Linked DNA regions of Homo sapiens. The protein of the gene in region 3 interacts with the protein of the main gene of each other region in a pairwise test. Each region holds a gene or a part of one and is shown on either strand. Other genes may lie near its edges. The genes, in order: R3HDM2, IFI27L2, CELF1, GRAMD1B, CXXC5 and CUX1.

Region 1 (3,390 bases), on a different chromosome or scaffold from region 3:
AGTCCACCTGCCTCGGCTTCCCAAAGTGCCGGGATTACAGCCATGAGCCACTGTGCCCGACCTTCAGTAGCTTCCTGACTGGTCTTTCTTGCTGCTGGTCTCTCTCCCTAGCTATCCTACATTTGGCCGTTTGAGTTAGCTCTCCAAAGCATAGGTCTCCCAACACCTACAGGATAAAGTCCAAACATCTTACCAGAATATGCTTCAAACTCTGACACCAACTATTTGTTTAATGTCTGACTCTTTAATAGACTGTCCATTCTATCAGGGCAGGGACAGCCTTGTTTTTTGTACACTCAGTGCCCAACATAGGAACTAGCACATAGCAAATGTTCAATAAGAGTTTGTTAAATAAACGTGTCTCATCTCCTACTGCTTCCCCTATATGGCCCCTGTGTCTTAGCACCTTGAATCATTTGTCAGTTCCTGAATATGACATACATCTCCATGCTTAAATGCTTAAAATGCTTCCCAGCTTACCCCATTCTTGGCCAAGATGTACTTTCTGGGTCTGGCATAGTGAAACTATGTGGATTTATCTTCTCCAGAACAACCAGAGGTCACTGCCTTATCTATAGCCATTACCAGAAAAGCCTGCACGTGTCTGCAGCCCTGGCCTGTGGCCCAGACCTGGACCCGTACCATGCCTAGACATTTGAGCAATCTGACCTGGGCATTTGGTTATAGCCAGCGTTGACAGAATGGAGTAGTTTTCTGCCAAGCATACCAAAGTACCCCTCACCAGGTGAAGGCCAGGGGAGCACTGGCATCTGGGGCTCATATCCCTTCCACTCAAACTTCTACTGGTTTGAGAAGATGGAGTCAGAAGCCACATCAGCAGCCATCTCAGGTTCCTGGCAAGACGTAGCTTGAGTGACCCTGAGGCAATGGGTGGATTTATTTGCTGCTTTCCCACTCAGGGCTAGTTGGAAGGCAAAAATACAGTTGGAATTTGTAACCAACTGCTTTCTTCCTGCCCTTCAGGAGTGTCACCTTCTGGACCAGGTGTAGTGGTCATGCAGCTGAATGTCCCTAATGGACCCCAGCCCCCTCAGAACCCATCCATGGTCCAGTGGAGTCATTGTAAATACTACAGCATGGACCAGCGGGGGCAGAAGCCTGGAGACCTGTACAGTCCTGACAGCAGCCCCCAGGTGAGTGCAGCACTCAGCCTTGTCTTGGCAAGGAGATGACCGTATTCTTCCCGGGGCGCAATGTTTGCTATTGACTGAGCAGCCTCTTTTACATGTCTTTTCCTGGGTACTTTCTGGGGAGAAACACAGGAAGTAGACAGCATCCTCTTTTAAGGAACCTAATATATAAGGTGGCAGGTGGGATACACACTTGAAAATGCTCAGAGAATACTTAAATCAATATGCCAGAAATGGATATTAAAATAACATAAATGGGCCAGGCATGGTGGCGCACACCGGTAATCCCAGCACTTTGGGAGGACAAGGCGGGAGGATCACTTGAGGTCAGGAGTTTGAGACCAACGTGGTGATACCCCGTCTCTACTGAAAATAAAAAAATTAGCCAGGCGTGATGGTGGGCACCTGTAATCCCAGCTACTCAGAAGGCTGAGGCAGGAGAATTGCTTGAACCCAGGAGGTGTAGGTTGCAGTGAGCCAAGATTGCACCACTGCACTCCAGCCTGTCTGGGTGATAGAGCAAGACTCCATCTCAAAATAAATAAATAAATAAATAAATAAATAAATAAATAAATAAATAAAATAGCATAAATGAATTAAGGACTGAGGTTGCAGTTTGAAGGAAGAGTCTGACTTTGGCAGAGTTCAGCAAGAGAAACTTATTTCCTGAGAGAGGTGAATTTTAAGCCAAGCCATAGGAATATCCAGAGGGTAATGTTTGATGTTTATGTGACGTGTGCTCCTCTTTTCCACAGGCCAACACACAAATGAGCAGCAGCCCTGTCACATCTCCTACCCAGTCTCCAGCACCCTCTCCTGTCACCAGCCTCAGCAGTGTCTGCACAGGACTCAGTCCCCTGCCTGTCCTCACACAGTTCCCCCGGCCTGGGGGTCCAGCACAGGGTAGGGGGTTAGATTAGTGCTGGCTGCTATGGAATTCACCTTTCACATCCCATTCCCAATTGCAGAGATTGAAAGAGTAACAACAGGCAGAGGACCAGTGTAGATGATCCAATTCTGGGAGTTAACTCTTCCTTTAACATCCCTGTATAGGCCTTGGACACTTGCCCCTCTCTAGTGCTGTCCATGCTTAACTTTCTTTAGCCTTCTTTACATACTTAGTACTTACAACCAAGTAGGTAAAAAGAGCTGGAGAAAATAAGTTCACTGAACTTTCTAATGACCAAAGAGTTTAACCTAATATCAGTACCAAGTCTGAGGGCTGGGAATGTGGGATTTTGTAAGAAACGGTATGGTCTTAGAAAAGGAACCACTAGATTTGGTTTCAGAAGTTCCAGTCTCACCACTAACTAGCTTTGTGATGTTCAACAAGTTACTTAAACTCAGAAGTAGACCTCACTTCCTAGTCTGTAAAATGGGGTTAATCACACATAAGATGGGAATTTTATCTGCTTTCTGCCTTAGCTGTCACAAGCAGTATAAAAATGAGAATGTAGTTTAAAAACTTTAAAGTGCTCTGAAATGTAATATTTATCAATAATAGGTAACACTTAATGGTACTTAATATGTACCAGGCATTGCTATAAATGCTTTACATGTCTTATATTTGTTTAACCTTTCCAGCAACATTAATGAGGGAAAAAAATACCCAACGTTAGATCATATTTCCAGTAACAGAGCCACTATTTTAACCCAGGCAGTCTGGCTCCACGACTATGCTCTTGTCTACTGTGCTTATACTGCCTCTCACATGAGTCAGAAACTTGAACCCTGGGTTTAGGGGTTGGGAGAATCTATATAAGAGATAAAAGACAGCCGGGCGCAGTGGCTAACGCTTGTAATCCCAGCACTTTGGGAGCCCGGGGCAGGCGGATCACCTGAGGTCAGGAGTTCAAGACTGCCTGGCCAACGTGGTGAAACCCCATCTCTACTAAAAATACAAAAAAAAATTAGCCAGGCGTGGTGGCACATGCTTGTAATCCCAGCTACTCGGGAGGCTGAAGCAGGAGAATCGCTTCCCAGGAGGCAGAGGTTGCAGTGAGCCGAGATCATGCCATTGCACTCCAGCCTGGGTGGCGAGTGAAACTCTGTCTCAAAAAAAAAAAAAAAGAGAGATAAAAGACATTCATAAGGGTCTGTAAGTTTCTTCCCTGGTCATTTTCATAGGACTGTTGTCTACAGTGGATAGAGCCTTTCTTCAAGGATGATGGGACCTAGTAGTCCCATTTATCTGTGAGACACAGTTGAGAGCCAAAGGATTTAGGAAGAGAAACAACTC
Region 2 (3,584 bases), on a different chromosome or scaffold from region 3:
AAAATACTTCAGTAGAACAAGGATCCAAGAATATGAGAAGATAACTCACAAAATAAGGAGTACATGAAGCTAATACACTTAAAAATAGTTTAGTCTCACTAGTGGTGAAGAGAAAAGTATATTAAAATAAGTCACCTATTAAATCAACAAAGGGTTTTTGTGTTATTGTTTCTTAACGACAAAGCTAATTGTTAGTGAGGAGTAGAAAAAAAATAGATTCTCTCACATACTGCTGGGAAAATGTAAACTGATGACAATAGTTTTGGATGCCAACATAACAACACAGGTATCAGGTGCTGTAAAAAATGCACAGTTTCTGACCCAGCAGTTCCACCTCCAGGAATATACAGAAAACACTTGTGCCCCATAATGTTAGCACTTCATGCTAAAATAACTTATCAGAGCAAAAATTAGACTTTAAACACTTAAAAGGGAGGGCTGATACGTTGAACCCAAGGGGATGGAATATTTAATGACAAATATCATATTGAAGTTCTGGAAAAGGCAAATGGGCGGGGATGGTTGCCAGGAGCAGGGCGTGGGTGACTCCAAAAGCGCATGAGAGGATTGATGGAGGAGGGGGCGGGGCATGTAAAAAAAAAACGGTCTGAATCAGAGCCGTCAAAGCCTCCCAGACTCACAGAAGTGTACACTACAAGGGTGAATTTTACTTTGTGTAAATCACCTACACCTTAATAAACTTGACTTTTTAAAAATCTTGATGAAGGATATTAAGCAGCCTGGGGAAATCTAAATGGTTGATTAACTAAAGTAAGTAATTTGCAAGGCAGAGTGTGAAGGGAAATTGGCAAGTGGTGGAGGGGGTGTTTACATATTCAGGGGAGACATAGGCTGGGAGCAAACGTGCCAGAATGTATTTATATTAGTGTCTCTCTGGAAGTTAAACATCGTTTATTAAATTAAACATCATTTTTCTCCTTGCATTTTGTTTGTTTCTTTGTTATTGTTGTGTTGTTTTTGGTTTTGGTTTTTGCAGCAAACAGCTCTTCTGTTATTGGCGGGGTTGGAGTGGGGGGCGGTGCTACAGCAATTTGGAAGCGGGGCTCACTTGCTATGGCTTCCAGGTTCTTTCCAGCGCTTTTCTCTTCGGTAGATCCATCAAGCCGGGACAGGCGAGCCGGGGAGTCGCGAAGGCTCCCGGGCGAGCGGGGTGGGGCGGGGGGCGGGGCCTGCGTCTCTCTAGGGCAGAGTAGGCGCGTCCCTACTGGATGGAGGGGGAAGTAACACCCCAAGAACGCTGTCATTTCCTGGGCCAAGTTGGGACCCGGACGGCCTCACCATGATGAGTGAGTCTTGCTTCCCCAGGGGGCTGGCGGGCTGGGCTGGGGGCAGGCTTCCCCAACCCCAGCCCAGGAAGGGACAGGGAATAGCTTCATTCCCTGACTTCATCAACCAGCTGACCTACTGACTCCCTCTCCCTCCCTTCCTCCCTCCCCTTCCCTTCCTCCCTCCGCTCCTTGCTTCCCTCCCCCTCCCTCCCTTTCTGCCCTTCTCTCTCCTCTTTCTCCCCTTTCCCATCTCCCTCTGCCTTCCCCTGGCACTCTCTCTCTAGAACGGGCAGCTGCTGCTGCAGTGGGAGGAGGTAAGTTACCCGGATCGCCTGTCTCCAGGCCCTCACCTAGCCTGGTCCCCGGGCTGCTGGGAGAACGCAGAGATGAGGCGCTGGGCTGGCTCTCACCCTCCACTTCCGAAGCTGCCCGAGTAGCCTGAGTGAGCCACAGCATCAAAATACTCCAGGGAAAAGCTCACTCCCATTCCTGACCCAGCTTCTCTTCTAGTCCTTATGTCGAATAAGCATAGGAGGAAGATCGTTTGAAAGAGGATTTGCAGCTAAACTCCACGTGGCTTATTTCACATTTATGCGTGGACACACACACACACACACACACACACACACAAATTTGAGACCAATGAAGGGTATTGACTTCCTCAGCATCACACAGCAAGTTAGAGACAAACCAGGGCCATGGCTGGTCCTTCTATGACATCTTTGCTTCACCTGGCTCCACACTCCACCTTTTCTTCACCAGAAGACCACTAAGTTGCCATCTCTGTATTGCTCAAGCTGACAGTCTCCGGAAACTGTCAAGGAATTCCTAAGCGGGGGGCGGGGGGAAGGGTCCCTTCTCCTGAGCCCACCTCTGCACTCAGCTTCTCTCTCCCCACAGCCCTGGCAGTGGGGGCTGTGCCCGTGGTGCTCAGTGCCATGGGCTTCACTGGGGCAGGAATCGCCGCGTCCTCCATAGCAGCCAAGATGATGTCCGCAGCAGCCATTGCCAACGGGGGTGGTGTTTCTGCGGGGAGCCTGGTGGCTACTCTGCAGTCCGTGGGTAAGTGTCCTAGACAGGACCACCAGAGCTGCGAGAAGATCCAGCCCTGAGGCTGAGCCCGAGGGAAGCTCTTCTCACCCTGAAGTTCCGTGACCCTCAGCTTCCTGGGTCTTCAGTCTCTCCCTCACTGTCCCCTCTTCTGGCTCCTTCTGAGTGAGGTTTGGGGTAGGAGTGGAGGGGTGATGGGGTGCTGGGTAGGGAGAAGAGGAAAGGAACCTAGGCCAAGAGCAATGCCTGGGTTCTGACACCTGGGTGACCTGGGCAAGGTCCCCTGTCCTCTCTGGGCCTCAGTGGCCTCCTGTGTAAAGTGAGGGGCTCTGTAGCTCTTAGGGTCTGTCTGTGGATGACTCTCCCTCTGTCTCTCAGTTTCCGTGAATTCACCCCTGAGCTGTCTTTTAGTTGCCTCTAGCAGCTTCTACCCATGGCAGAGCCCTGGGATTTTCAGGACCTGGAGGAGGGATCCGGGTGGGATTTCTGGGCCACTGCCCGACCCCTGTGCTCATTCTCTGTCTCCTCCACAGGGGCAGCTGGACTCTCCACATCATCCAACATCCTCCTGGCCTCTGTTGGGTCAGTGTTGGGGGCCTGCTTGGGGAATTCACCTTCTTCTTCTCTCCCAGCTGAACCCGAGGCTAAAGAAGATGAGGCAAGAGAAAATGTACCCCAAGGTGAACCTCCAAAACCCCCACTCAAGTCAGAGAAACATGAGGAATAAAGGTCACATGCAGATGCATCTCCCTGTTTTGCTTCTTGCAGCTCTGGTTGGTGTTCTGAGCTGGAGGTTTCCAGTTCTCCCTCTCTCCTAGACTGCCCTGTCATGGAGGGGCAGAGGGAGGTGGTTGGCCACGCAGATAATCGGTAGGCAGAAGGCTTTGATTGGTCTCAGCCTTACGGAGATGGGCCGTGTGACCCAGGGCCATTCGTGGGCCTTTTCTGGGCCTCAGTTTCCCCCTTATTCAATGTTGGCATTGTCACAGGCTCCTGTTGGGAGGCAGGGGTGAGGGGTAGCCAGGGCACTTCAGGAACCACTGACTGTAGAGCCCTCTGTTCTTCATTAATGGCACTAGATACCCAGAATGAGCAGGACACCATCCTTCCCTTGCCTAACCTCAAAGTCTTGTCAGAAGGCCGATAAGCAAGCCAGCAGGAAAAGACAATGTGTCCAGTGTTACATGCAGGCTCTAGGCACTTTGAGGGGAGGAGGCTGAGTCAGGAATGGTCACCAAAATGTGG
Region 3 (3,500 bases):
GGCTGGAGTACAATGGTGATCTCAGCTCACTGCAACCTCCGCCTTCCAGGTTCAAGCGATTCTCCTGCCTCAGCCTCCCGAGTAGCTGGGACCACAGGTGTGTACCATCACACCCAGCTAATTTTTGTATTTTTAGTAGAGACGGGGTTTCACCATGTTGGTCAGGCTGGTCTCAAACTCCTAACCTCAGGTGATTTGCCTGCCTCGGCTTCCCAAAATGCTGGGATTACAGGCATAAGCCACCGCGCCTGGCCTTTTTCTTCTTAAACACCTTGGGCTATGTGTTCAGTCCTAACTGGTGGACGGTGAATACTGTACTTGGTCCCTTCATTTCCCTCCAAATGAGATTAGCTCTTAGGGCAGGAATCATGTCTAACCAAAACAAAGAGAACACAGCTCTCAACACATGCCATCATGTACTTGCTGGTAGTGGCAATGACAACAAAAAGGTTAACCTTCCCTAAAGGGGGGCTCCAAAAGTCTCTAAGAAAAGCAAATGCATAGCATGTAGACCATTTTCAAAGCATTATCATTTCTGCAGATGACTAAAACCTCCCTGAATTTTCTGAACATATAAGCAATGTTTCAGCACTAAGAAACAATTTTTTCTGTTGAAATATAACCGGACCCAGTGGTTCACGCCTGTAATCCCAGAACTTTGGGAGGGCAAGGTAGGCAAATCACTTGAGGTCGGGAGTTTGAGACCAGCCTGGCTCACATAAGCAAAACCCTGTCTCTACTAAAACTACAAAAATTAGCCAGGCGTGGTGGCACATGACTGTAATCCCAGCTGCTTGCAGTTGGAGGTTGCAGTGAGCAGAGATTGCGCCACTGTTTTCCAACCTGGGCAACAGAGCGAGGCTTCAAAACAAAACAAAACAAAACAACCCCAACTCTTTATATTTTTTTAAAAAAACTTCAGAGAAATACTAGCTAGGATAAACTGGGGTTTTTTTTTTTTTTCTTCTTCTTTTTTTTTTTTTTTTTTTTTTTTTGTGAGACAGAGTCTCGCTCTATTGCCCAGGCTGGAGTGCAATGGTGCGATCTTGGCTCACTGCAACCTCCGCTCAGTGCAACCTCCGCCTCCCAGGTTCAAGCCATTCTCCTGCCTCAGCTTCCCGAGCAGCTGGGATTACAGGCACCTGCCACCACACCCATGTAATTTTTTTGTATTTTTAGTATAGACAGGGTTTCACCATGCTGGCCAGGCTGGTCTCAAACTCCCAACCTCAGGCGATCCACTCACCTCAGCCTCCCAAAGTGTTGGGATTACAGGCGTGAGTCACAGCGCCCGGCCTAAACTGGGATTTCTTATAAGATATTAGAAATATGAAAACCACTGGAACTAAACCAAAATTCAGTACTGGGAGACAGAAATCAGTGCCTTTTGTCTGTTTCCATACAGAATAATACTTGAAATGATGAGGAATAAATGACTATACTAGCTATTTCTATGTGAATATTTTTGTATCATCCATACAAATCTAGTGGTTTCACCATTAATAGCCTAAGATGACCTTTTTCCTCTTTGACTCACAAATGGGTGGTTTTAACTGTCTTGTGCTGGCCCAATTCTTTTCCATTAATAATCCCCTGTAACATATACACTGCAGACCTAGTAAATCTAAATCACAAATTGGGGCGAGACCTTCTTTTGGACTAGACAACCTTCTTTTGGCTCACGACAACAGAGAGATCAAATTAAAGGAAGTCTATTTACAATGTAGTAAACTTGAATATACACCTGTAATGCTCATTTAAAAATGTTCATGTTAATCTCTTGATCTCCGCCAGGCGCAGTGGCTCACACCTGTAAACCCAGCACTTTGGGAGGCCAAGACAGGTGGATCACCTGAGGTCGTGAGTTCGAGACCAGCCTGGCCAACACAGTGAAAGCCCATCCCTACTAGAAATACAAAAATTAGCTGGGTGTGATGGTGTGTGTCTGTAGTCCCAGCTACTTGGGAAGTTGAGGCAGGAGAATCACTTGAACCCGAGGTGGAGGTTGCAGTAAGCCAAGATTGTGCCACTGCACTCTAGCCTGGGTGACAGAGTGAGTGAGACTCCGTCTCAAAAAATAAATAAATAAATAAATAAATAAAGCAAAAAAAGAAAAAAAATCTCTTGATCTCTCAAGTCCGCTGAAAGAAACATTTATCATACTCTTTAGGAAAGACTCAATAAGGATTTTAATGATGCCCTCTACATCTGGTAGAAAGAGATATGGAGAAAGACACTGGTAGTTAAGATTCCCTCAGGAATTTCTTTCTTGGAGGCAAGGACACAAGATGTTTCTAAATCTTTAAAACGGGAAACCAGGAATTCACTTTAGTTGCAGCAAAAGCCTCAAGATATAACCAGAGATGCATGTCCAGAGATACATATATATAGAGAGAGAAAGAGACTAACAGGACTAAAAGAAATAGTACTACCTGAATTTTTACATATAATTTCTATATGCCAAAAGTTGTAAATGCCACTGTGTTTGTTGGCTAGGGACAGCAGAAGAAGGAACAGCTGGGAGCTTGCACAGTCTGCAGAAAGCAAACCACAAAGACTCACTGCTAAATACTGGGGTCCAAGAGTATTTAGACCAGCAAGGTTTCCCCACACAGATGCTGCGCTGATTTGCTGCATCTGCTGCTGGAGCTGCTGGGCCATTCTCTTCTGTTCTTTGTCCTTCTGTGTATCAGCAAATTTTACCACCATGGGTGATGAGCAACCCTGTGAAAAGACCATAACGAAAGGGTCAAATTCCTCCATCTGAAAAGAAGAAAAAAAATCTTCCTTTTGGATGACATGCAGGTTACATTCTAATTTCATTCACTGCCAAATGATTCTCCTCATGATAGACACAAGAGAGAAGAGACTGTAATCCCAACACTTTGGGAGGCTGAGGCGGGTGGATCACTTGAGCCCAGGAATTTTAGACCAGCCTGGGCAACATGGCAAAACGGTCGCTATTAAAAAAAAATACAAAAATTAACTGGGCGTGCTGGTGTGCACCTGTAGTCCCAGCTACTTGAGTGGCAGAGGTAGGGGGGATCACTTGAGCCTGGGTGGTTGGGGCTGCAGTGAGCCATGATATTCCCACTGCACTCCAGCCCAGGTGACAAAGTAAGACCCCATCTCAAAAAAAGGGGTAGGGAGAGCATTTCCAATACGTTAATTTTAAAGAAATCAGTGGTTTTTAACTTTAAGATGTTGGCTGTTTAACCTTCTGGGCAATCAGATGCTGCACATGCTGCTGGACTTTAATGGCCAACTGTCCCAGCATTCCCAAGCTGAGGAATTTTCCCCATCACCTATCTGCTCCCTACCTCCATGGTCTGTGCTTGGTGCATTGCCTTGATAGCCGTCTGTGCCATGGCTCTTGTTGTAAAAGTCACAAATGCACAACCTGGTAAGAGAAGAGTCAGTAACTCATGCATTCATTTATTTCTCTGACAAACATTAACTGAGCACCTACTATGTGCTGACTATCATGCTAGCAATACAGA
Region 4 (3,500 bases), about 76 Mb from region 3:
AATAAAAAAAAATTGTGCCGTCTTATGTTCAATGGTAGTTAAGATGATGCTTTGCAGTTAGACCACTGAAAGAAAAGAGCAAGACTCCAGGCCTTCACCTCCCCACGCTTCCTCCCCACTACACGGAACAGCAGAAAGTAGTTGCCTCGAGCAACACTTTGAGAGTGTCTCTCCCAAGCTCCAGAATCTACGACAGCTCCTCATTGAATTGACTTCACTTTGCCTAGGAAGCGCTCTGCATATAGGATCTCAATACCTGTTTGATGACTGAGTGATTCATTGAAATTCAAACTCTTTGGCATAAATCACCTTCGGTCTGTCAGCCTCACCACCTTCATTTTTCCACATTCCTCAACAAGATCACATTTGGTCATCCATCTCTATCTTCAAGCCAACACATCCAAACTGCTTTCACCTATAGGCATTTGTTAACCCTTCAAAACTCAGCTCTCTATAGATCAGTGGTTGTCTAGGGCTGGGGAAATGGGATGGAGAGGGTGAAGGTGCTAGCCAAAAAGTATGAGTTTCAGTCAGGCACAGTGGTTCATGCCTGTAATCCCAGCACTTTGGGAGGCTGAGGTGGGCAGATCATGAGGTCAGGAGTTCAAGACCCACCTGGCCAACATGGTGAAACCCTGTCTCTACTAAAAATACAAAAATTATCTGGGCGTGGTGGCGAGCTTCTGTAATCCCAGCTACTCAGGAGGCTTAGGCAGGAGAATCACTTGAACCCAGGAGGCAGAGGCTGCAGTGAGCCGAGATTGAGCCACTGCACTCCAGCCTGGGTGAGAGAGGGAGACTCCGTCTCAAAAAAAAAAAAAAAAAAAAAAAGTATGAGTTTCTTTGTGGGGCAACAAACGTTTTTAAAAACTGACTGTGGTGATGGTTGTACATAGCTGTGAATATATTAAAAACCACTGAATTATGCTTTAAATAGGTGAATTGTATATTATATAAATTATATCTCAATAAAGCTGTTTTTAAAAACTCAGCTCTGTACTCATCTCCTTTTGGAAATTTTCCCACACTCATGAATAAAAGAATTTCACTTTAAACAGTAGAGAAAAAGGAATCATTTATTTACTCATTATTAACTCATCAACAAACATCTATAGATCTATAGATCACTGTAAGAGGTCAGGTACAGTGCTGTGACGATACAAAGATGAACATGATTGGTCTTGGAGTATTCCAGTGAACACTGGAAAGTTAGTAAGCCATGCTGTCTTTACCATTTGTTCCACTTCTTCCTTCCTAGGGTTTAAGGAGAAGAAAAGGGTCTCCTAATCCTCTTCATATTTTCAACTTTGTGCAGTGAAAATCCGCAAGCTTGAGCTTCAAGTCAGTGACAAGTAAAAAAACAAACAAACAAACAAATAATGAAACAAATAATGAAAAAACAAAAATTAAAAGAAATCCACAAGCTATGGCCCTCTCAGCCACTTAACTTCTACCACATCACGCTGAATTTCATAGCAAGCCTGAAAGGTGTTTTTCTCTCTTTTGGAGCAGGAGATTTGGGGTGGGGAATGTGGAGACGTCATGCTGGGCCTGGTATGCTAATCCTCCCTAATCCAGGCCAGAGCAGAGCCATTTTCCAACCATCATTTCCAAATCCTGAATTGTGTGAGGAGGCTCAGGTGCTGCTCCAGGACACGTGAGTATGTAACCTCATACTTTTAAGCAAACATCCATTCCATGTGAGAGACTCACAGAGTAATGAAATAAGCCTTCACCCTTGCACAGCAAGAGGAAGTTTGCAAAACATTTTCACATTCACTACTCTTCAGACTTCCCATTAACCCACAGAGATCCTCTTCCACAAATGAAGAAGGTGAAACTCATGGAGGTAAAGTGAAATGCTCAAGCTAATCTCCATAGCTAATCGATGATAGAACTTAAATATACAGCTGTCTTCTGATATTAAGTCCAATGTTCCCTGCACTCCATTGCCTCTAAATGCCAATTCTATTTTCTTTTGGAAATGGAGTCTTGCTCTGTCGCCCAGGCTGGAGTGCAGTGGTGTGATCTCAGCTCACTGAAACCTTTGCCCACAAAGTTCAAGCAATTCTCATGCCTCAGCCTCCTGAGTAGCTGGGATTACAGGCGCGCACTACCATGTCCAGCTAATTTTTGTATTTTTAGTAGCAACAGGGTTTTGCCATGTTGGCTAGGCTGGTCTCGAACTCCTGGCCTCAAATGATCTGCCTCCTCAGCCTCCCAAAGTGCTGGGATTACAGGCATGAGCTACCACACCCCGCCACCAATTCCTTCTCAGGCCACTTGGTGGTATCTACGAGCACCTATTCACTTGATTGCTGCTTTTCTTGGAAGGAAGCCTTTCATCTTCGAGGCCTAAAAATGATGGGGCTTTGTTTTACACACAATCCAAATAGATTCCAACAGAAGGCAGTATAACAGTAGCTAAGAGTAGATGTGAGTCACACGAATTTGAATTTGAATCCAGAGTCTGCCTTTTCAGATACATATGTTCTTGTTTTTTGTTGGTGGTGGTTTTTTTTTTTTTTTTTTTTTTTTGGAAACGGAGTCTCACTCTGTTGCCCAGGCTGGAGTGCAGTGGCGAGATCTCGGCTCACTGCAACCTCCACCTCCTAGGTTCAAGCAATTCTCCTGCCTCAGCCTCCCGAGTAGCTGGGACTACAGGTGTCCACCACCACACCTGGCTAATTTTTGTATTTTTAGTAGAGACGGTGTTTCTCCGTGTTGCCCAAGTTGGTGGCTAACTCCTGAGCTCAGGCAATCTGCCTGCCTCATCCTCCCAAAGTGCTAGGATTACAGGCGTGAGCCACTGCGCCCGGCTGATACATAGGTTCTTCTAATCCAAAAGTCACCACTTAAAATAACTGCCTGAACTACATCTAGATGAAAATCCTGCCAAATTTTAAGGATATGTCCCCAAATCCAACAAAATGAAGGTTCCACTACACACATAGACAACTCTCGAAACCAGGAATACCTTCCTAAATCTAACCAAATCTACTGTCATCCCCATCCTAGCCAGCAATGCAAGATTTTTTTCTTCATACACACAAAGACACACACACACACACACACACACACACACACACGCACGTAACATTTTAAGCGTTGGGGGTGGGGGTCTCACCATGGCTGAAATGCAGTGGTTATTCACAGGCACCATTATAGCCTACTAAAGCCTTGAACTCTTGGGCTCATGTGATCCTCACACCACAACCCAAGTAGCTGGGAATACAGGCCATGCCATTGCACCCGGCTCTTTTTACCATATTTTGTCCTCAGTATATATGGCAGAATCTCAAGATCAAAAGAAGGTCTCTTTTAGTTTCTTTTACATTGGAGGGAAAAGCCGACAAGCCATGACAAACTACTTTATTTATTTATTCATTTAAGATGAAGTTTCGCTCTTGTTGCCCAGGCTGGAGTGCAATGGCGCGATCTTGGCTCACTGCAACCTCCACCTCCCGGGTTCAAGCAATTCTCCCGCCTTGGCCTCCCGA
Region 5 (4,052 bases), on a different chromosome or scaffold from region 3:
ATGGAGAGGGAGGCCAAGGCTGACTAGGGGCGTCCCTGGGAGAGACCCAGCTACTGCGAGGATGAGGGGTAGGGGGGTTCTACCCAAGTTCCGGGGGCTGGCTGGGAACTCGGAGGCCAATCTCCTTCAGCTGTTCCCATCTCTTCCCAGGGCAAAAATCAAACCATCACCCCCTCTCCCTCCTCCCCAAGGAGAGGACAATTTCCGTTCTGGGAGGGGGGTGACAGCTGCAGAGCGGGCCACTCCCCACCCCCCCAAGCTCCAGCCTGACTCTCATCTAGGGAAACTGCTAAATCAACAATACGCAGTTACGGGTAGGTAGCCCGCCGGCCTGAGTTTCCCCGCACGGCTCTCAGAAAGGGGTTTAGAGGGGGCTTCGGTCTCAGTTCCCGGTTTTCTAGTGGCGGTTGGAAACCAAGGCACGGGCATCTTTCAGGAGGGGGATCAGGTGAAGCTTAGGCCAGTAGGTCCCCCAAGACGTCTAATTTAAATACTCCCAACTGCAAAGGACAGACGCCCCCCACCCCGCGGCCTGGGGCAGCTGAGGTGGAGCCGGGCGTTCAAATCGCGCTCCAAACAAGTCCGCAGCGACCGCGCTCGCAGCCCCCGCCAGGCGGCCCCAGCGGAAAACTTGAAAGGGACTCTGTTTGCCGGCGGCCCTGGGGCGGCTCCGGCGGGGGCGAGGGCCGAGCGATCTCACACACGCCCCCTCCCCAACGCTTCCAAAGAAAATGCGGGGGTGGGGGGGACAGGGCCCACCACAAATCCAAGGGCTCCAAACAGCGCCCGCCGCGCGAGGAAAGGTGGGGGTCAGGAGTCTGGTCCGCTGGTCACCCCCTTAGCTCCCCCCCCATCCGAAGGCGCGACTCTCAGACCACCCAAAGTCCAGGGGGCAAAGGAGGGCGCGGTTGCCAAACCTTCAGACCCCCGTCGCGGGAGACTTCAGGGAGCGGGTCTTTCCGAATGAGTCACTACAGAACCCCCCAAATTTACTGGTGCTTCCTTGCAGCCCGAGGCACCAGCCCAACTCCGCGCACCCCTTCAGATTCCCGGGGGGGAAAAAAGAACAAAAAGAGATCTTGCTCCCACTTTGGGCGTTTCAGCTCTTCTGACAGGTCCCGAAGGTGGCCCCCCATTTAAAAACCGGGGTCACTCGCTTTCCGTCGATCCTACAAATAAACAAAGCCAGGCGCACCCCGCGCTCCCCGCCGGAAAGCAGCCCATTCCGGGCGAGGACAACTTCCCCCAGCCAGAAAATTAACACATTCCTCTCGCGGCGGTTCAGCCCCTCACTCCGCTCCGGGGAAGCGAAGGGGAGGGGGGTCGGGCCGAACTTCATGGGTAAATTTGGGGCCAGTGCAGCGTGGCAGGCGCCGGGGACGTACGCCCCCCACAGTTCCGCAGCTAGAGGAACACCCCCATTCTCCCTCCCAGGCTCTGCACGCTGCGTGGCCCACGCGGGGCTCGGGAGACAGCTCAAAAGACTCCCCAAGGCTGGGAAAGGAGGGAGGGAGGGGCCGCGGGGCACCGTGGTGGTGGGGGAGATACTTTGATGGAAAAAAAAGGTCAAACTTCATCAGCCCGCCGGGCACCCCGCGGGCAGCGGGGGCGAGGAGCCGGAGGAAAAATGCAGAAGTAGCCGCCGCTTCTTCCAAGTGGTGGGGGAGGCTCAGCCACGCGTGGTCGAGGGCGCCCAGAGCAGTTAACGTCGCCCCTCAACACAGGGCTGCGAGCGGGGTCTGATGGGGGGAGTGCGCGCCAGAGATCTACAAGCAGCCGCCCCCGCAGGCTGAGCGCCCGCCCAACGCCAAGAGGTGAGGACCCCGGGCGCCCGCTGCCCCAGCGCCCGCGAACTGGAGTAGTGGGGGGGAGGGGGGCGGCACCCCGCAAGGAGCGTCCCAGCCCCACTCCACGGCGCCCAAGCCGCCGTCCCAGACCCTAAAACCCCTCTTTTTGTCTGAACTCAGTGATCTGCGACCGAGCATACTGCGGCTTAGGGAGGCTTGGGTATAGCAGCGGCCACCAAGCGATCACCGGCGCTAGGTCTCCCAGGCTCCGGGGCTCCGCGGCTTACGGTGCGGGCGCCCCCCGCCCCTCCCAAATACGGACCCCTCCTTCCCCGTCCCCGGCTCTCCGCACCTGAACTTCGGGGGAACCCGCGCAGCCAAACTTTCCGCCGACTTGCAGCGAACTCCGGCCCCGGCCGCGCACCGAACCCCGGGGGAGGAGAGGGAGGTAGGCGGGGAAGGGGAGGGGGCCGGCCTCCGGGGGGGGTCGAGGGAGGGCCGTGGCCCGACACCTACCGGCTCTCCGAGTCGTCCAAGCCGCCACCGCCGCCGTCGCCGCGAGGCCGAGGGGGAGGGGCGGGGCAGGGAGCTGCGCTCCGCTCTGGGCACCACCGCCGCGGTGCGCTCCGCTCCAGCCGCCAGCAGTGCCCGGGTCCGGAGCCCGAGTCGCGCCGCCGCGGCTGGCCCGAGGCGGGGAGGGGGGGGAGCCTGCAGCACCTGCCCCTCCTCCCCCTCCCCGCGGCCCAAATTAAAAAACAACAAAAAGCAACTAATCACCCCCGAGCTGAGCGCGGCTCGCGGGCGGAGGGCTCAGCGTGCGGCGCCCGGACTCAGCAGGCGGCGCGCATGGCTGGGCGCGGGCTGGGCAGGGCTGGGACGCGGGGCCCGGCTTCAGGGGATAAGGCTCTGCCGCTCTTCTCGCTCGGCTCGGGCGTCTGCTCTTGCCGCCAGTGCCGCCTCTGCTGCCGCCGCCTCTACATCCCCGCTCAGGCTCAGCCGCCTCTGCCGCCGCCGCCGCGCGCCCGCCCGGGCAGGAGCTATGAACGCTGCCCGGGGGCTGCCGGCAAAACCCGGACCGGACTCGCCGCTCCCTCCTCCCCCCAACCCCCTCCACCTCGGCTCCCCTCCCTCCTCCCGCCGCCTCCCTCCCAGCGCAGCTCGGGCCACTTGGACGCCGCGGGCTCTGAGGCCGGAGCTGCAGCCGCTGCGCCTCGAGCTCCCCGCGCCCTGACGCGGTCCACCCAGGCTCAGCTCCCTTGCGCGCCCCGTCTTCGCCTATTTCCCGCAACTTTACAAAAAAAAAAAAAAAAGGACGACCTCCCCGCTTTGGTGAGGCGGTCTGGGTTTAGAGACGCACCTCCGGGGAAATCTGCTATCTTTCTGCCCCCTCTAGAGCGGGGCCAGAAGCTTCGAGGACCGGGAGGGAGAATTTGGCCGCGCCCCCCAGCTCAGGTGCGCGGCGGGCCAGAGATTCCTAGTCGAGGGTCCTGGGAGGTAGACGCGTGTTCCAAGACCCCACCCTTCCAAGAGCTCCTTAATGGATTCAGTGGGCACTAGGGCCCCGGGAGAAAAGGGGCGGAGATTCCCGTTCCCATTTCTCAGGTGAGGAAACTGATCCGAGAAAGGATATTTTATCTCTCAGGCAGGCATCAGCCTCAACTCTTGAGTCCCGGGGCTAAAACGACTACGTACATTTGGTGCCCTGAGACCATGGCCTACGCACTCAAAACCCGAAACAATGCTTGGAACAGCAGCGCTCAATAGGTACTGATTGAAAGACAGAAGGAAAACTCAGCCTTGCCAGAGTAGGCGCCCAGTGGGGACAGAGTTGGGCCCGCATATCCCGCTTTCACTCCATCAGTGGCCTCCATATGCCCATCTTAGGCTAATTAATCCTGCTGCTGCAGATGTCTTCACCTCACGTACCCATGGTGCAAGCCCCGGGCTCATATAATCCCAACTGCATATAATCCCAAAGTGGAAGTTTTCTCCAATTCTTTGGGATTCGTGGGGGCGGATTTGTGCAAGGCCGACCTTCCTCTGCGAGGCGAAGAAAACGCAGTCCCCAGACCCAAGCAGGGGAGGGAGAGGGGGAGGGCGGTTGGGGAAGTCAGCCTAGGGTTAAACGTTACAGCCTGAGATCGATTGGGGCCCAGATAACAGGGAGTTAACTGTGGCGATCCGGGCGCCTGCAGCCACAGGCGCGGCCTCGGTGGGAGAAGCGAAACTGTCTCCCACCTCGCTGCTTCCTCTCCTCTGCTCTGC
Region 6 (3,500 bases), on a different chromosome or scaffold from region 3:
CGCAGAGGCCGTGGCTCTGCTGCAAAAGGAGATGGGGGAAATCTAAGTAGCGACCTACGGCATTGAGGCCAGGGAGGTCCATGGGAGGGAGGACTGCCTTGAAGGAGGATCACCCGCCAGCCCCCAGAACAAAGCTCGCATTAATCATCCAAAGACATTCAATTTCGGTTAACATCCTCATAAAACACTGCATTTTCTTGGTGCAAATTGATGCTGTTCAAAACATCTCCCTGCTCTGTTTGAGTCTAAATTTCAGGGTGTTTCAAACATGTCTGATGAAATGACCTCTCAATAGCTCTGTTGATGTGGCACATTGATCCCCTGGTCTTAAACAGAAAAGGAACTTTCTTTTTTGTTTTTTTATTTGAGGCAGGTTCTCACTCTGTTGCCCAGACTGGAGTGCAGTGGCTCAATCATGGCTCACTGCAGCCTCCACCTCCTGGGCTCAAGCCATCCTCCTGCCTTAGCCTCTCAAGTAGCTGGGACCACAGGTACACGCCACCACGCCCAGCTAACCTTTTGATTTTTTTGTAGATCAAAAGATTACAAAATATATGTTGCCCAGGCTGGTCTTGAACTCCTGGACTCAAGCGATCCATCCACCTCAGCCTCCCAAACTGCTGGAATTATAGGCGTGAGCTACTGTGCCCGGCTGGGATTTTTTGAAATTATGAATGTGACTGACATTTTATCTTTTTACGGAGGGTGGGGTAGAAAGGGTGCTTAAATAAAACTTTTGTGTATTTTACTCAAGCCAGGCCTGTTTTACTCATAATGCTAAACAAATCACTAATGGACCGTGAACAATGTAGGGAAGGTGGCCATGGGACACGCCCTCTTCTGCGGGGTGGGAAGAGGGGAGGTGTCATCTGTGATGTGTTCTCCCTACAGAACCAGCTTTGCATGAGGATCGAGCCCAGTCAACGTTGCTGCTATGGGGCTGGAGGGGACTTAAGGGCTCCTCCCAAAAGTGAGACCAGCACCCAAGGCCAATTGGACCCGCGGCCACTAAGCATACGGAGACGCTATACATCATGTAATGCAATTCCCTCTGATACGATCTCTAGTATTGAAATACTATAGGGTTTCCTAAGTATGGAGTGCTGAGTGCGTTTCAAAGGCCAGATCTCCCAAATCTAACAGCCTTAACTCATGCCGGGCCACCCTTGAGCTCTGGACGTGGCAGAAGCAAAGAGAACTTTACCTGATGTGATGCACAAATGTTTCATCACGCACACAGACACACGCACGCATGCACACACACATGTGCAACTCTGTGACGGGCTCGCACGCTGGCGCCACCCAACGCCAGTCTCTCACCTCTTTGTCTGCCTTGGATGCTACGGAGGGCCAGGATGTTCTGCTCATCGGAGAGGAACTGTTTCATCTTGTGAAATGGCTCCTTGCCACGAACAGTCAGTTTATTCCATGGCTTGGGCCGGGCCAGAATCTCGCTCACGGACCCTTGAGACAGTCCCAACACATAATGTCCGAAAATACGTTGTCCGATATTGTGCTTAATCAGCTGCTCTTTGACCTGCCGGGCGATTTCTGCAGTGTCCATCTCCTCGCCCTCGGAGACGCTCCCAGCACTTTCTGACTGGCTGGGGGATGGGGCCATGCCATTGACATCTGGGCTTTGTTGTAATGGACTTTGGGAAGATATGGAGTTTGTGCTGTATGGACCTGTTGAAAAAATCATGCTTGTGCTTCCGGCTTCCTGCATAGCCTTGGAGTAGAAGGACTGCATTAGCTGCCGCTGGAGAAGAGAGTTTAGTGCAAATTTTCCTGTAGAAGCCAGGGGTAGGCTGGGGCTTGCCAGGGATGAGCTGAAAAAGTCTTGACTTAACCCCGCTGGTGAGAACTGGTGTGTACCATTAGTATTGGAAGCCTGCTCCCCCGGGTTGCGGGGCAACTGAGAAGGAGGGGGGGCCGGCAAAGATCCCGGGCGCCGACTTTCAGGCTGGTCTTTCCCTTTCCTCCTGGCTGACCCTACAAGGAAGGGCAAACAGAATGCATTATGGGGGATTCCAAAGGGGGAAAAAAAAACCAAGACCAAAATGCAAAAGTTTGCCCCCGCAAAAGGGAAAACAAAAAAAAGTGCAGGTTTTTTTTACAAGGGCCAATGAGGTGGGTTGGTTTGTTTTCCGATTAAATTTGTAAGTCAGCCAAACGAGGCTTCCCAAAACAAGCAACATGCATTCATGTTTGCGCCTTTCTTGTACGTTGCAGCCTGGAGAGTCCCCTTGACATAGACTCAAACTCCTAGCGTGACAAGGAGCTGGTGACACACACAGGGAAGAGTTGACGGGTCGCGGGCCTCTTACTGGGCCCGCTGGCCCCGGCCGGAGGAGCAGCAAACACTGACATTTTAGGACCAATGGATTCGCTCGCACCTCTTGCTCTGAGGCGATGCACCGTACCGAGCCCCCTCGATGTGGAGGCGCGCGCCCGTTTTGAGAATGCAATACCATTAGAGCCCGAGACACCTGTACGCGTTTTACCAGCTGCCCAAACCAGAAGCACAGTCAAGTGACGCCACCATTTGGGGGATGAGCCAAGAAAGGCTAAGGATGGGGGACGCGTCCCCAGGGGAAACCTGACCAAGGAAGAAAAACCTCTACTGGACCCGGCAGGCCCGGGGCTGTCCCTGAAAACACCACCAGAGCGAGGCTGGGTTCACACTGCCCCTGGCCTCTGTGCAGCACAACCAGACACAGATCAGAAAGGCCGACGTCCTCCGAGCTGTCCCTCCCGGGGATTCCAGCCGCACTGCCCCTAACTGACCTCCGCAGAGCCTGTGCGGCTGGCCCGTCTCGACATCCAGCTTTAAGCAGGGCGGGGAAGGGAAGGGAGGAGCGGTGAGGAGGAGGGCACCCAACACGCGTTAGTCAAAGGTTCTCGTCAACCGGCGCTTCTCTGGCCATGCATCTGTCCAGACTCACGATTCACCTTCCTCGTCCTCGACCGACCCCTGGAAGCGAACCAACCACCGCACACGCGCGAAGCCCGGCCAACCTACCGCTCAGGTCGCTGTTGGAGATGCGCAGCGCGGCGTTCTCGGACTGCAGCGAGCGGTTCTTCTCCAGCAACAGCACCTCCAGGGGCTTGGCCGCATCCTAGAAGGGGCAGAGCGGGGGTCTCACTGCGGGGCCGGCCACTCACCCGCTCCCGGGGCCACCAGGCCTGGAGCCCTGCCTCCCTCCATCTGTCCGCGTTCCCACCCAGCTCTCGATCTGATTAGGAAGTGGGCTGCGGACAGCTGATTTCCCCCCAAGTCGTTTAACACACGTGGAAAACAAGTTCCCTTTAGAAAGAATGGATTCTAGTTGAAGTCATTTTCCTTCTTAGACTTCCACAGCTCCTAAAAAAATTAATTATTCTCTCATCTGTTCTCAAACTCAAGCGACCTGAGCCCGTGCCTCATTTGGCCATAAGACTGGCTGCCAAGCCACAAACGTCTGTCCGAACGTTACTGTAAAGGGAACTTTTCTTTTTTT

The links.
Region 1: the proteins of CELF1 (region 3) and R3HDM2 interact in a two-hybrid assay, tested with the Homo sapiens proteins (one large-scale study listed by IntAct).
Region 2: the proteins of CELF1 (region 3) and IFI27L2 interact in a two-hybrid assay, tested with the Homo sapiens proteins (one large-scale study listed by IntAct).
Region 4: the proteins of CELF1 (region 3) and GRAMD1B interact in a two-hybrid assay, tested with the Homo sapiens proteins (one large-scale study listed by IntAct).
Region 5: the proteins of CELF1 (region 3) and CXXC5 interact in a two-hybrid assay, tested with the Homo sapiens proteins (one large-scale study listed by IntAct).
Region 6: the proteins of CELF1 (region 3) and CUX1 interact in a two-hybrid assay, tested with the Homo sapiens proteins (one large-scale study listed by IntAct).

Annotation. Positions count from the first base shown.
Region 1 is NC_000012.12:57,256,654-57,260,043, reverse strand, and holds part of R3HDM2 (R3H domain-containing protein 2), read left to right. Parts: intron 1-984; coding exon 985-1,154; intron 1,155-1,906; coding exon 1,907-2,054; intron 2,055-3,390.
Region 2 is NC_000014.9:94,127,281-94,130,864, reverse strand, and holds IFI27L2 (interferon alpha-inducible protein 27-like protein 2 precursor), read left to right. Parts: upstream 1-1,260; 5' UTR 1,261-1,300; coding exon 1,301-1,307; intron 1,308-1,573; coding exon 1,574-1,603; intron 1,604-2,189; coding exon 2,190-2,351; intron 2,352-2,872; coding exon 2,873-3,066; 3' UTR 3,067-3,084; downstream 3,085-3,584. UniProt on the Homo sapiens protein: Plays a role in the apoptotic process and has a pro-apoptotic activity.
Region 3 is NC_000011.10:47,480,133-47,483,632, forward strand, and holds part of CELF1 (CUGBP Elav-like family member 1), read right to left. Parts: intron 3,401-3,500; coding exon 3,321-3,400; intron 2,725-3,320; coding exon 2,563-2,724; intron 1-2,562. UniProt on the Homo sapiens protein: RNA-binding protein implicated in the regulation of several post-transcriptional events. Involved in pre-mRNA alternative splicing, mRNA translation and stability.
Region 4 is NC_000011.10:123,433,269-123,436,768, reverse strand, and holds part of GRAMD1B (protein Aster-B), read right to left. Parts: intron 1,336-3,500; coding exon of another isoform or gene 1,302-1,335; exon of another isoform or gene 1,054-1,301; intron 1-1,053. UniProt on the Homo sapiens protein: Cholesterol transporter that mediates non-vesicular transport of cholesterol from the plasma membrane (PM) to the endoplasmic reticulum (ER).
Region 5 is NC_000005.10:139,647,097-139,651,148, reverse strand, and holds the start of CXXC5 (CXXC-type zinc finger protein 5), read right to left. Parts: upstream 2,801-4,052; 5' UTR 2,304-2,800; intron 2,199-2,303; exon of another isoform or gene 1,968-2,198; intron 1,815-1,967; exon of another isoform or gene 1,421-1,814; intron 161-1,420; exon of another isoform or gene 1-160. UniProt on the Homo sapiens protein: May indirectly participate in activation of the NF-kappa-B and MAPK pathways. Acts as a mediator of BMP4-mediated modulation of canonical Wnt signaling activity in neural stem cells.
Region 6 is NC_000007.14:102,195,126-102,198,625, reverse strand, and holds part of CUX1 (Homeobox protein cut-like 1), read right to left. Parts: intron 3,120-3,500; coding exon 3,023-3,119; intron 1,993-3,022; coding exon 1,321-1,992; intron 1-1,320. UniProt on the Homo sapiens protein: May be involved in intra-Golgi retrograde transport.